4 linked regions of the Homo sapiens genome follow. The protein of the gene in region 2 purifies or fractionates together with the protein of the main gene of each other region. This does not show direct contact. Each region holds a gene or a part of one and is shown on either strand. Other genes may lie near its edges.

Region 1 (3,957 bases), on a different chromosome or scaffold from region 2:
TCATGAGCAGTCTAAGTGCCTTTGCATATATTAACTCATTACAATTCCACATCAACCCTATTAGATGGGTAGATATATTATTATTCTATTAAACAGACAAGGAATTGAGGCTTAAGGGGTAAGTGATTTCACCAAGACCAGACAGCTACAGGACTCCAACCTCTCTGGAGCCTGCACTTCTACTGAATCTGGCTCTTTTACATATTCCAACACCTTTTCCTATGACTTCCTGCCCCTCCATCTGGTAGCCTTAATGCTTTCTATTCTTGCCTAATCTTCAGGGGACTAGGGATCTGCATTGCTGATTTGGTTTAAATCAGAAGGGAAGCAAAGTAAACAAACATACCAAATGTGCGCTGTGTGGGAATTATCATACGAGGGCTTTATTTTCTGCTTCAGGAAGAGGCCCTATGTTAGCAGCCCCAGCCTGCATTCAGGCTGATTGCAGAGTATTTTGCTTTTTATTTTCATGTCTTAGTCCCTGTACCCTCGCCCCTTCCCCGCCTCTGGTGGTCTCCAGAGAACTTCGTGTCCCCTCAGCTTCTCCCTCCTACATCCTGCCTACGTAGAGAAGCTCTTGCTTCATTCTGGGAGGTTACGTGGGCTCTCGCCTACACACCGAGAGAAACAAACAGTGTCAAACACTCACAGAGAGACGCGCAGACACAAACGGACCCACACGGGCAACTCCCGAGACAAAACCCACACTCGATGGATCCACGCGGCCGTGGAAACACCTGCCGCCCCAGAAACACTCAGGTACTCGCGACACACACAGTACAGTCACGCTTAAGGGCACCAGGATTCCGGGTTTGCGCGTATGCGCGGTCCCTTTGGATGCTCGTGCGCATAGACACAACACCCTACACGCCCCAGACCCACGAAACTCCCTACGGCTCAGCCCCAGCCCACCCGGGCCGCCCTTCCCTCGAGGCGGCCTCCCGTCTCTCCTCCTCTCGCTTCTCCTCCTCCTCCGCCTAAAGATGTACAAAACACTCCTCGGAAGCAACCCCGGCGTTCAGCTCCTCCCTCCCCGCCCCCCGGCCGCCGCTCCCCCATTCATTTTCGGCCGTCGCCGGCTAAGTCCCTCCCCCGGCGTAGCCCGGCCTCCGCCGCTCCCCGCCCGGAGACCGCGGCGCACTTGGACTTCCCTCTCCATTCGCCAGCCGCCTCGCTCCCGGACCCCACGGCTGCAAACTGATCTGGCGCGCGGGGAGGAGGAGAGCGCAGGCGAGCGAACCCGCGAGAGAGGGAGAGAGCGAGCGAGCAACAGCGAGAGCGAGAGCGAGAGAGCCGGGAGGCAGAGGGAGTAGTGACCGCCTTCCGGAGCCGGGATTCATGCCTGTCCTCGGGACCAGCGAAGGGGACTTTACGGCTGAGTATGAGCCAGGCTGCTAGGAGCCAGGTACCCCCACGCCTGCAGTCCCCGCGCCGTGCCCGGAATGCGAGCTGCACGCAGGGCTCTCCCAAGTTCCCACCGAGCCGAATAAAAAGCGTCCTCCCGCAGCTCTCCGCCAAAGACGGACATTGACTCCAGGTAAGGCGGCGCCGGGTGCAGCGCCCCGCAGCCCCGCTGCCCTTGGACCCGGCCCCGGGCCGCATTCGGGGCGTCCCCGCGCTCCTCTGCCCCTCCCCCTACCGGCACCCTTGTCCGCTCTTCACCTGGCCGCCCCGCCGCCTCCAAGTCTTCTCCAGTTCTAGGGAGGGGGTTCCTGTGCCTGGGGCTCAAAGGGCTAATTGCGGGTTTGAGTGAGTGGCGTGTGTGTCCCCGCGCGCTCCCGACGTGTGCACCATGGTGGGAACTTGATGTGGTGCTAGTGTGTTTGCGTGTGCGGCGTCGTTTGCGTTTGATGCGTGTGTTCGTGGTGTGTGTGTGTGTCCGTGTGTGTAAGGGAGGGGTGAAGAGAGAGAGGTCCTATAACCTACTTACGGCGCGATGTGTGTGTGCATGTTTGTACGTATGTGTTTGTATGTGTGCCCTCGTGTGTCTTTTTAATTAGGTCTCTCCAGCTTACACGGAATGGGACCCTTACTATAGGATCACGTAGTCACCGGGAAACCCGCTGTGGACTTCCTCTTGGGGCTCTGGGCTTGGGGTTTGGGGAGGATTATGGGGCTGTAGATGGCACCTTATTTAGCCCAATGTTGGTACGCTTGAAGGAAAATTCCTCCAAACGGTGGAATCCTGCTACACTGGGACCCACAGCTTAATATGAAAGAGACATGGCCAACCCCCGAGGCAAATGAGACGCTGTCACTTTAAATTCTACACTGGGCAGACTCCAAGATTCTGATGGGAATTTGGAGACACTGGATAGTGGGTGACAGAGAAAGGGGGAAGTCAGCGGTGGGCTCCTTATCTGGGGCTTGGAAAGTCTGGGATAGGGATTTACCCTGCATCCCCGTTTGCAATCAACAGAGCCCCTCCGGCTTCTGTTGGTTTTGGGGAGGATCTGGCAAGTTTGCATGGATCCCCCTCAGGGGAAAGGAGAAAGCGTCCTCGGGGACTTGCTCATCCATCACAGTTGCAAAGGGTCTCAGAGGAAATTTCATCTGGGGCGGCTGTGGATGATATGGAAGGAGATGGATGGGGCACTTTCCTAAGACAGATTCGTCTTTCTTTCCCCATTTCAGGCGGGGAAGCCCCCAGAGAGTCTCTCCCTAAATATGCCTCTCCATGGCTCCCCTGGAGTTAGGGGGATATTGAGAGAAGGCAGAGAGGTGGAGAGGGAGAGAGAGAGAGCAAGAGCGAGAGAGAGGGAGACAGAGAGAGAGAGTGTTTCAGTACTGAGGGAGATCTACAATTTGAAAAGGGGCTGTGAGTGTGGAACCCATGACAGAATGTGGCAGTAATTGACTTAAACTGCTGTCGGTTTGCACCTCGCGTCTCTCACTTGGCTCCAAAATACTGCCAAGGGCAGGGGGGCGGTGGAGGAATCTCAGCCAGGAAGGTAGTTTGGGTCAAGGCCCTCTTTCTTCTTTCCTCCATCTCCTGGGAGGCTCTTTAGGTAGGTCCCTTGGCCACCCTGGCTTGGTACTGTTGGGCTTGGGCTCTGGGGCCAGCCATTGATTTGATTCCCAGCTGCCTCTTAAAGGCTTGCCCTACTCAGCAAAAATGCTGAGTTTTACTGCTGTTAGCATGGCTTCCAGACTCGGCAGCTGTTACTTTCTCAAGGTAAGCGGCAGCCGTTCTGCTCTCAGGCAGGGAGGCTAGGAGAAGACAAGGGCTGTGACGCTGGGACACAGCCTCTTGTCTAGCTCAGCACGGAGGGGCCGCTGAAAAGCCCTCTTAGGGGAAAAAAGTAGAAATATATTTGGCCTAAAAAATGTACACATATATTCTAGGAAGATATATATATATATATATATATCAATCACACACACACACACACACACACATGTGTTCATATTCTGGGGAGAGATAAAAGCAAACATGTATTTGTAGGAACCTGCCCTAGTGGGTGGGTTCTACCTGCAGGCACTTGCAGACATACCATTCTCTGTCCAGAGGCTGATACCTCAGGCTGAAGCCTTCACATAGCCACAGAGAATCTCCTTCAGGAAACTCATGTCAGGGCAGAGCTCCCTGGATTATCTTGGGTAGGGGGTACTAGGGCCAAGGAGGAGACCCATTTTTGGGAACTGCCTCATTTTCTCTCTTTCCTAATTCACAGACGATCGAAACTGGAAGGAATATTAAAGAGCAGAAAGGCAGGACTCTGTGGCCTAAAGAGGGAATGAGAATTCCCCAACATTCAGTAGTGGGTTAGTGGCATGCCCAGGACTAGAATCTAGGCTTATCAATCAGCTAGATCAATACCCTTTCCACTCCTCCCAGCAATATACACTCTAGGACTGTATATTGCTCCCACCCCTATCTTGCCAACCTGCCACCATGACCCCTACCAAGACAATCGCTTGTCTTCCCTCATCAAACTTCACATTTTCAGAGATGCA
Region 2 (3,500 bases):
CCCAGAAGGTCAAGGCTGCAGTGAGCCATGATCGCACCACTGCACTCCAGGCTGGGCAACAGAGAGACTGTCTCAAAAATAATAATAATAATATTGTATGTATATAAATACATGAATAAGTAGAAGTATATGCTTAACTTTACTCTAAAACTACCGAGCATCTACTTCATGTTACCTTCTTTAAATTTGTTTACTATCCAGTCTAGCTGATCCAGTATACTGCGGAAAGTACCCATATGATCGAGGACTTCTTCTGTTATAGAATTCAGGACCTATATCATGAATGTGGAAGAGGTACCACATTAATTACAATTTATTGTCATATACAACTAGAAAATCAAACCTTTTTTTATAAATTAAAAATGAATTTGGATTTCCCAAAAGTTTAAAAAATAACTTTTAAAAATTCTACTGGTACTTGAGTATATCTAATTCATTGTTTTTTGCCTAAGTTGTGGCTAAAAGAAAACAGAAAAGAATAGCAAAGATGTACAGGTAATAGGTAATATAAGAGGGCAGCAAAAACAAATGAAAAAGCTCCCAAGAACATGAGAAACATTAGAAAACTACAGTTCTATCAAAGGAAACAGGACACAAACACTACAGACACTTTAAAAAAGGAATACTATATGGCTCAATATCCAGCACCCAAAAGATTTCATGTTCAAATGATGAAGAGATATTAAGCATTTGAAATAAAAATGATCTATGATAAATGTATTGTTAAACTACAGTCTTCACATCACATCCTGTTGCATTTTAAAGCATTTTCACAGCATGTAGTTTTTGCCTAATAAAGCATTTTCATAGTTTATAACAAAACTGAAGACCCCATAATTCCCTCCTTCAGAAGTACCACTGATACTCAGTATAGTAAACAAAGCTAACATTTTCCTAAGTTTTAATACATGTCAGTTACAATGTAGGACATTCGAAGATGGTTTCAAAGCTAGATTCTTGAGTCCAAACACATGGTATTAAGCACTATACAATCCTACTACCGTGAAGGCTAAAACAAAAATTCTTTAATACTCCATCCTCATTTATGTGGGGGCTTGAATTGGCAGAGGATATAATGTTTTTCCCTTTAACATTTTTGAAACTTACTGATTTCACACTGATTCCAGGAAAGAAGCCATTGATGACAACGTGAATGGAATCTTGCAGCATAGTGGTTCGAAACCTTTCTAGTAAATCTCTCTTAGAACCCAAACCATAAAGCACAATGTTGAACCCAAGGCTGTTAGGAAAGACAGTATTCATGAAATTAAACTTCAATACCTCTTATTGCCAATTTTATTATCAACCAGTTTCCTTAAATTCAGTTTATAAAAAATACAGGAAAGGGGTAGGCGCACTGGCTCAAGCCTGTAATCCCCGAATTTTGGGAAGGCAAACGCAAAAAAGTTTTTCATGTATGTATATATATGTATCTTTTTTTTTTTGAGACAGAGTCACTCTGTCACCCAGACTGGAGTCCAGTGGCACTCTTGGCTCACTGCAACCTCAGCCTCCCAGGTTCAAGCAACTCTTCAGCGTCAGTCTCCCAAGAAGCTGGGGCTACAGCTGTGCACCACCATACCTGGCTAATTTTTATATTTTTACTAGAGATGAGCTTTTGCCATGTTGCCCAGGCTGGTCTTGAACAACTGGGCTCAAGTAATCCACCCACCTTGGCCCCCAAAATTGCTGGGACTACAGGTGTGAGCCACCATGTCTAGCCAAAAATATTTTTATTTAAAAAAAAAATTAGGTCAGGTGCGGTGGCTCACGCCTGTAATCCCAGCACTTTGGGAGGCCGAGGTGGGCGGATCACGAGGTCAGGAGATCGAGACCACAGTGAAACCCCATCTCTACTAAAAATACAAAAAAAAAAAAAATTAGCTGGGTGCAGTGGCGGGTGCCTGTAGTCCCAGCTACTTGGGAGGCTGAGGCAGGAGAATGGCGTGAACACGGAAGGCGGAGCTTGCAGTGAGCCGAGATCCCGCCACTGCACTCCAACCAGGGCAACAGAGCAAGACAGTGTCTGTAAAAAAAAATTAACTAATTAATAATAATTTTTTTTTTCGCTCTGTCGCCCAGGCTGGAGTGTAGTGGCACCATCATAGCTCACTGCAACCTCCGCCTCCCGGGTTCAAGCGATTCTCCTGCCTCAGCCTCCTGAGCAGCTGGATTACAGGCGCCCGCCACCATGCCCAGCTAATTTTTATATTTTTAGTAGAGACGGGGTTTCACCATGTTGGTCTTGAACTCTTGACCTCAGGTGATGTGCCTGCCTTAGCCTCTCAAAGTGCTGGGATTACAGGCATGAGCCACCGTGCAAGGCCAGGAATCAATGTTTAGTGATTCAGCCATCCCAGTTCTTCCTCTTCCTTCCTAAAAAAAAAAAGTATTCTTTTTAAAAATTATTATTGGCCGGGCATGATGGCTCACGCCTGTAATCCCAGCACTTTGGGAGGTCGAGGCAGGTGGATCACATGAGGCCAGGAATTCGAGACCAGCCTGGCCAACATGGTGAAATCCTGTCTCTACTAAAAATACAAAAATTGGCTGGGCATGGTGGCAGGTGCCTGTAATCCCAGCTACTTGGGAGGCTGAGGCAGGAGAATTGCTTGAACCTGGGAGGTGGAGGTTGCAGAGAGCTGAGATCACATCACTACATTCCAGCCTGGGCAACAGAGTAAGATTCCATCTTAAATAAATAAATAAATATTTATTCCAAACCCATACAAGGTAAAGGCACAATTTTATTATCTGTATACCAAGCTTCTAGTTCTAATTTGTTCAGTAGCTTCACTGTAGCTTCTATTACTTTTCAGATGACAGATGACTGGAGGCAAGGGAGACCATTGCCAATAAAAGCCCTAAAAAGGCCAGGCGCAGTGGCTCACGCCTGTAATCCCAGCACTTTGGGAGGCCGAGGCGGGCGGATCACGAGGTCAGGAGATCGAGACCATCTTGGCTAACACGGTGAAATCCTGTCTCTACTAAAAATACAAAAAAATTAGCTGGGCGTGGTGGCAGGCACCTGTAGTCCCAGCTACTCAGGAGGCTGAGGCAGGAGAATGGCGTGAACACGGGAGGCAGAGCTTGCAGTGAGCCGAGATTGCACCACTGCACTTCAGCCTGGGCAACAGAGCAAGACTCTGTCTCAAAAAAAAAAACAACAAAAAAAAAGTCCTAAAAACTTTTATAGGCTGAAGCAGAGTTGAAACTGATACAAATTGAAAAGAGGTCAAGTAACAAAGGCCTTGTTAAGTCATACTAAACCATTAATTCACTCATTCCAAGGAGAATGAGCATTTATTTATTTATTTTGAGATGGAGTCCTGCTCTGTCACCCAGGCTGGAGTGCAGTGGTGCGATTTTGGCTCACTGCCTCCCGCGTTCAAGCAATTCTCCTGCCTCACCCTCCCAAGTAGCTGGGATTACAGGCATGCACCACTAAGCCCGGCTAACTTTGTATTTTTAGTAGAGACAGGATTTCACTATGTTGGTCA
Region 3 (3,500 bases), on a different chromosome or scaffold from region 2:
GGCCAGGCTGTTCTCAAACTCCTGACCTCAAGTGATCCACCTGCCTCGGCCTCCCAAAGTGCTGGGATTACAGGTGTGAGCCACCATCACTTCTATAACACATTTATATGCTGCTTTAATGGTTTACAAAGGACTCTCACATAAATGCTTACAATGAAACTCAAAGCAATCCTATGTCAGGTAGAGACTGTTATCCTCTCAGAGAGCCTACCCTCACAAGACAGTCCACAATGATCCTTGCCTCATGTCCTTGTGTAATCCACTCCCATACTGAATCAGGGCTGGTCTGTAGAACCAATTGAATACATCTGAAATGATGGTGTATGACTTCCACAGGTAAGTCATAAAGGGCACTGCAGTTTCTACTTTGGCAGCTTGAATCTCGGGAAAGTCATCTGCCATCTCATGAGAATAGTCCCACGGCAAGCCCATTGTGGAAAGGAACCAACCTGCCAACACCAACTGGCCAGCCAAGTGAGTAAGCCACCTTGGAAGTGAATCTTTTAGCTCCAGTGATGCTCCTATAAAACTTCCACTCCTGCTGATATCTGACAGCAACCTCCAGAGAACCAAGCAAGGACCCTCAAATTGCTGACCCACAGCAACCATGAGATAACAAACAATCATTGTTGTTTTCAGCCACTAAGGTTTTCATGTTACAAAACAACAGAGAACCCAATTTTACATATGAGGCTCAGAGAGGTTAATTTACCAATTATCATATAGGAATGAGTAGAGAAAACAGATCTGGAACCCAGTCTTTAGGCTTTAGGTTCAATTTGTCATTAAACAATACCACTTTCTTCTCAACTAAAATAAGGTATAATACTGTAAGGATGATCATTCCTACACGATTATATGACTGATACTAGTATGTCAAGCTTCCTACAGTACAGAGACACAGTATATGTCCCTGCATTCTTAACGAATATAATGGGAATCTCCAAAATAAGTCCATTTGTGGTGCTCCATTGTGCTCTGTGGAGTTGTTACTATTTTCTGGAAAATGGCTATTTTTAATGTGCATATCATGAAAATAAACACTTAACACATTTAGAGAATTTTAATACTAAAATATTACTGACACTGAGACTACACACTTAAATCTTAATTACAATAAGCATCTGTGTAATTTTAAACAATTAGAATATATCAGACAGGAAATGCTCAACTGCTATTTCTTTAAGGTTCTGCATTTTGGCTTTAGGTCTTCAACCTTGTAGCATTACACAAATGTAGTAAAATATATCATCAAAATGCTCGTGATGGTAAAATATTAAATCAAAATCCATAAAGTAGTTCCTATCTTACAGGACAAGGTAGCCAGCTCTTAAGCCTGTCCACTTCTGGAGAAGGTCAAGAGAACATTTTATTGTTATAATCACATCTGCATATAATGTTCCTTCACACAAATCTCCTCTTTTGAGCCATATAACTTTGCAAAACAGGTAGGCAGGACGGGTATACTACCATCCTATTTTTCAATGATGGCCTTAGAGAAGTCTCAGTAACTTAACTAAGGATACGTAACTATTAAAAGGAATTCAAGAATCTAATCTACAATTTTTTAGCTCCAAATCCCAGCCTTTTCTTCTAAGCCATGTTTTAGCCCAGTGGTTCTCCACCCTGACTGCCATGAGGACACCTAAGATGCTTTGAAAATATCACTGCCTGGACCTCATCCCCCAGATACTTGATATAATTGCACTGGTTTGTGTTAGCTGTCTAATATATAATAAACCAGTGTTGGTAAATTCACAGAAAGTTTATATCACAAGGGAGAAAATGCTGATACGTCTATATGTAAACTGAAACATATTAACCCCCTAAGAACTCCCTCAAACACAAAAATATCTTGCAATAAAATCACGCAGAACAAGAAGAAAGGGAAGATGAGAAACCCAAGCCCCTTCTGCTGCTATCGTGGGGCCATTAAGGAATATTTTATTCCCCTAATCTTACTCCCCGAACCTCACCATGCCATATCTCAAGCTATAGCTCAGGTATCACCTTTTGTGAGACCTTCAGGATCACAAAAATAATGAAGTCCATTTTTTGCATCTATCTTACCTTGAACTCTATCATAGCACATATTGTCCCTCAAAGCATTGCTTTATTTTTATTTTATTATTATTATTATTATTATTTGAGATGGAGTCTTGCTCTGTCACCCAGGCTGGAGTGCAGTACCACATTCTCGGCTCACTGCAACCTCCACCTCCTGGGTTCAAGTGATTCTCCTGCCTCAGCCTCTGGGATTACAGGTACATGCCAGCATGCCTGACTAATTTTTGTATTTTTAGTAGAGACGGGGTTTTGCCATATTGGCCAGGCTAGTCTCGAACTCCTGACCTCTGGTGATCCACCCACCTCAGCCTCCCAAAGTACTGGTGCTGCTTTATTTATATATCCATTTTTCTCACTGCCCTGAGGGGTCCTTAACCCATTTATGCTGGAGGTTGCAAATTTTTTTTGTGAAAAATCAGGCCTTGGCGATGACCTTGAGAAGTAGGATATAAATAACTCCCACTAGCTTAGCGCTCCAATAATGGAGCACTAGGCATAAATGCATTAAGATCAGATCCCTATGTTACTCATCCTTCCTGCCATATATATCTTTGTATCCAGGGCCTTTACCATAGCAGATATTAATACATGTTGGCTATGCTGAATGATTTTTATGTTTGTTATCATTATTTCCTCCATTCTCCTAGCAGACACTCCTGTGAAATTTTTCAACTTTTAATAAAGGAAAATGGAGTTTTTACGCACAACTGGATTAGGTTAGAGAATAATGTATGCAAAAGGGCCAGACGTAGTGAGAGCAAGACAGCAGTGAACTGTGGGGCAGGAAAGAATAGAGTAGAAAGGACATTTAAAATTCATATCTGACAGTTGGGGTCAGATATGAATTTTGCAAGCCGGGAAGGAGTAGGCAAACAAAGCGACAACCTAATCTTCATTCACAAAAAAAAAAATATGACAAGCAAGGAATCAGGCAACTGTATTTTCAACATCTCCCTTTCTATGGTGTTTCTAACTCACAGCATACAGACATGTTGTTTCTCTCTCAAAAAATAAAATCTGAAGCAGTGATATGATTTCACTATGTATTTGACTTTTTTTTAAGATTCCACATGTGAGATAATACAATATTTTTCTTTCTGCATTTGGCTTACTTCACTTAGCATAATGTCCCCTAGGTTTACCTATCTTATGGCAAAAAGCAGAATCTATTTCTTTTTTAAGGCTGAATAATATTCCATTCTATATATGTACTGCAGTTTGATTTTCTGTTGTCTTTTGTTGGACAGTTAGGTTGTTTCCATATATTCACACCCATCAAGATGGCTACTACCAAATAAAACAAGAGATAAGTGTTGGCGAGGGTGGGAGAAAAGAGAACCCTTGTATACTATTGGTACAACCATTATGGAAAAAGTAGGGAGGTTCCTAAAGAAATTAAAAATAGAACTACCATTACTTCTATTTTGTACCAA
Region 4 (3,500 bases), on a different chromosome or scaffold from region 2:
GGCCCTTTCAATTATAGCCACCCTTGATCTGAAGCTTTTCTGTGGCTTTTCAGAGCACTGGCCTTTAATTTATGTCAGCACTACTTATTTTTGGCATTTTACAGCTGTGTGGGACATCTATCTCATTTCTTTCAACTTTGAAATATGAAGTCAGTGCTTGTGATTCCAATATACTAGGCAAAAAAAAAAATTTTTTTGTACACTTTCTGAAAGAGAACATTTTGGAGAGTGACTGAAAAAGAATTCCCTTATTCACAAAAAGTCTACTCCTTTTACACCGGGATTATCTTGCTGTTATTTCCACCAAGAATGAGTACTGTGTTAAGCTCAGGAAACAATTTTTGAGTACCTAGTATAGGTTAGGTGGTATATTTGGGGCTGGGAACACAAAAGATAAAAAAGACTGTCTAGCTCCAAGGGACATAAAATATCTACCTTAAATTCAATCTTATCACCAAAAATAAATTCTATCTTTCAGGAAACTTATGAGCCAATAAATAACATAATCCCGTGAAAAATACCTTATCTCCTCCAAAATTCTTTTCAAAGCCTATTCTTAATCATCTTTTTGATGATTTATATATTGGCCCATTTCTAAGAATTAAGGGATTGTCTGTTTGGAGGAAGCTATGAGAAGGTGACTTTCAAAAATTATTTTTATCTTTGGGTTTATCTTTTTCTTCCTTTTTTCCCCTAATTTGAAAAATAATTACAATTAAGAACATGTATTTAGTATTGAAAAAAAAAACTACAAAAAAAGCAGAAGCCAATAGCAATTGCCCCTCTTAGAATCAACCACAACATGTTTTCAACTCCCACTTAATGCCCATCACCTCCTAAACCACTAGCCCAATTCATTCCCCATCTCAACCCCTACATAATCCCTGCACTCTTATCACTGAAGGAAAAAGCAGAGGCAAAGGTAAATATAGAATCATAAAATCTCAAGATTAGAAAGGGCTTTAAAAGACATGATTGCTGAATATTGATTTACTCACTGCAATTAACTGAACCCCCAGAGAGAGCACGCTCCCTTCAACTTCTAAAAAAACACAGCAAAAACCACAGGTATAACAAAAACAAAAGCAACTATAATAACAAGCCTCCCCATTTTAAAGACAAAGTTTACTACTGTATTTGGTTAAATGAATGATGGGAATTTTTCTTCTTTGTTAAAAATGTTTTGGCTTATAAATGTAGTACTTCACAGAGTTGTAGTTCTGCAAGAGAACTTTTAAAAAGTGGGCAAAGACCTTTCAGTACATTAAGTACAAATGTTTGTTAGTTCTTGATTGTAACTACTCTGGCATAATCAAATAACCCACATTTTTAAATGGAAAAACTGTAGTATGTTTATTTAATGCCAATAAGCAAAAGTGACAGCCTTACATTTGCTTATCAAGATAAATTTCTTCAAGTAAAATTTTTTATAATAAAGGTATCTCCTCAGATAAAAAAATCAAATGACTTAAAATCAAATAATGCTACTACATAGTAAGTCAGTTGCTACCAAAGGATATCTTTGGGAACTTAGAGGCCTACACACAGAAAGACTACTCAAAAATAAAGAATGCTTCCCAAAATATTACCAGCTTCTTGTTCCAGGGTTTTAGCTTGGAATTTCAAATATAGTATCATCTTAAGATACTGTATTTGCCTCTCTCTCTCTATATATTTTTTTTTTTTAGAAATTATGTTTTTAAAAGAAGTAACATATGGTTTGGAGTTGAAGTCAATGAGAGCCCTAAACATAATTTTTGTGTTATTTCAGAGAGAAGTAACAAAGGCCAGTAGCAGATCACATATGAGAGGCACAAGCAAGCAGAAGTCACTGATGGAGTTAGGCTGTTTTCTAAAAGGCCACTGCCCCCAATTTCCTTAAGTTTCCTTTCAATACTCTATAAATCTATAATACTTTCAGTGATCAGGCCCTTCTCCCATGCTAATAAGGGACCTGTGCTGGTTGGCAGACTGACAGAAATGTATACTAAAAGCCATGCAACTGATCAATTAATCAATTCATGTAATTTATTTGCTTTCTTTCTCCCACGTTAGAATAGAAGCTCAAGGAGAGCAGGTAGTTTGTCTTATATTCACTGCCAGATTCCTAGAACAATTCCTGGTATACGGCACTTGCCTGTTGTGTATTTCTTGAATAAAAGTCATTCTCTTACTTTAAGATACACTAGTGCCTTACATTGAGACAGGGTTGACACCACAGGATAAGCTAAAGGTCCTTGGCCTTCTTTTTACATGTTAAGTATTATGACAGTCACTGTATTACTAAAGTAAACATGTTTTGTTTACTACATTTGACTGTTTACTTTATTTCACTGACACCCAGGAAAGCAACAGAGACTGACATATGTACAGTACAGCCTTTTTTGCTACAGGCTTGACATTCTATACTGCTCCACCCCAAAAAACTTCACCTTAGTAAGACTGCAAATAGATGAGACTTTTGACATGTGTCAGGAAATTTTCAGCTTATCCAAGATAACTATATTAAATTTGGCAAAGGGCAATTTACCTTATTATAGAGAAATAACAATTAGGGATAAGTATCTGATGCTATACTTCCATAGAAGAAGGACATGAGCTTATTTATCTTTGGGTTTTAATACTTTTGTATTCACACTAATTCTAGATATTTGGAGTATACAACACTAAATGAAGCTATGCCAAGGCAAGCCGGAGGGATTTCTAATATCATTTACCATACTTCCTCCTTTTCTTGAGTAAATTTCAAAATGGAGTATTTTTATAAACATTCCATTAGAGACCAAAAGGCTTTGATTTTCAAAGTAGCAGTGATGGCCAAAGGCTTCATTGTGCCAGAAAAAACACTGCAGAGCAGTTTGGGAGCTACAATTGATATCGGAACTGTATTCTGCCAGAATCTAACAGAAGCTTAAAGGATTTTTCAGCTTGCAATATTAACTGATACATACATTCTGGATGAGAGAGAAAAGGATGCCAGTTCCCCTTGTCCAAATAGCTCTAAGAGATACAAGATCATTTCTGTCCCTAGTAAAAGAGAAATGGAAGTCCTATTGGTATGACCTTTGAGGTGGTATAACTAAACTAAAGAGCATCTCTAACAACAAAAAGTTCCTAAGACCATATTTTCTCATAGTCTATCACACAGAAAAACAGGACGTGTTTGAAGAAAACAAATGTGGTAAAAGAATACCACACCTGAGTACCAAAAAACTAATAAGCTCTAGTGCTACGCTACTATCCTTGAGCAATTCACTTTGCCTTTCTGGTTCTCAATGGCAATTCCAACAAAATGGGTAAATGCAGCAAGCCCAGTGGGTGGCCAAGACTGCCAAAATTCAGAAATGCCTTCTTGAGGAGGAACAAGGGGGACATTGGGGAAGTCAGTCCACTTGCCTCATCAAACTTTGACTTTATATGTTTCCCTCACTTGGTAGCTGAGGTAATGAAACAAAGCGAAAGCTATCTTTGGACCTGGACCAGCTTTTGTGGTGTGGCCT

Evidence for each region.
Region 1: the proteins of ORC2 (region 2) and BRINP1 purify together in Homo sapiens (affinity purification with mass spectrometry; one large-scale study listed by BioGRID and IntAct). This does not show direct contact.
Region 3: the proteins of ORC2 (region 2) and IMMP2L purify together in Homo sapiens (co-immunoprecipitation; one large-scale study listed by IntAct). This does not show direct contact.
Region 4: the proteins of ORC2 (region 2) and OBI1 purify together in Homo sapiens (affinity purification with western blotting; one study listed by BioGRID). This does not show direct contact.

The regions. Positions count from the first base shown.
Region 1 is NC_000009.12:119,366,636-119,370,592, reverse strand, and holds the start of BRINP1 (BMP/retinoic acid-inducible neural-specific protein 1 precursor), read left to right. Parts: upstream 1-1,157; 5' UTR 1,158-1,537; intron 1,538-3,957. UniProt on the Homo sapiens protein: Plays a role in neurogenesis and brain development. May suppress cell cycle progression in postmitotic neurons by inhibiting G1/S transition.
Region 2 is NC_000002.12:200,925,661-200,929,160, forward strand, and holds part of ORC2 (origin recognition complex subunit 2), read right to left. Parts: intron 1,241-3,500; coding exon 1,108-1,240; intron 273-1,107; coding exon 176-272; intron 1-175. UniProt on the Homo sapiens protein: Component of the origin recognition complex (ORC) that binds origins of replication. DNA-binding is ATP-dependent. The specific DNA sequences that define origins of replication have not been identified yet.
Region 3 is NC_000007.14:111,552,493-111,555,992, forward strand, and holds part of IMMP2L (mitochondrial inner membrane protease subunit 2), read right to left. Parts: intron 1-3,500. UniProt on the Homo sapiens protein: Catalyzes the removal of transit peptides required for the targeting of proteins from the mitochondrial matrix, across the inner membrane, into the inter-membrane space. Known to process the nuclear encoded protein DIABLO.
Region 4 is NC_000013.11:78,617,656-78,621,155, forward strand, and holds part of OBI1 (ORC ubiquitin ligase 1), read right to left. Parts: intron 1-3,500. UniProt on the Homo sapiens protein: E3 ubiquitin ligase essential for DNA replication origin activation during S phase.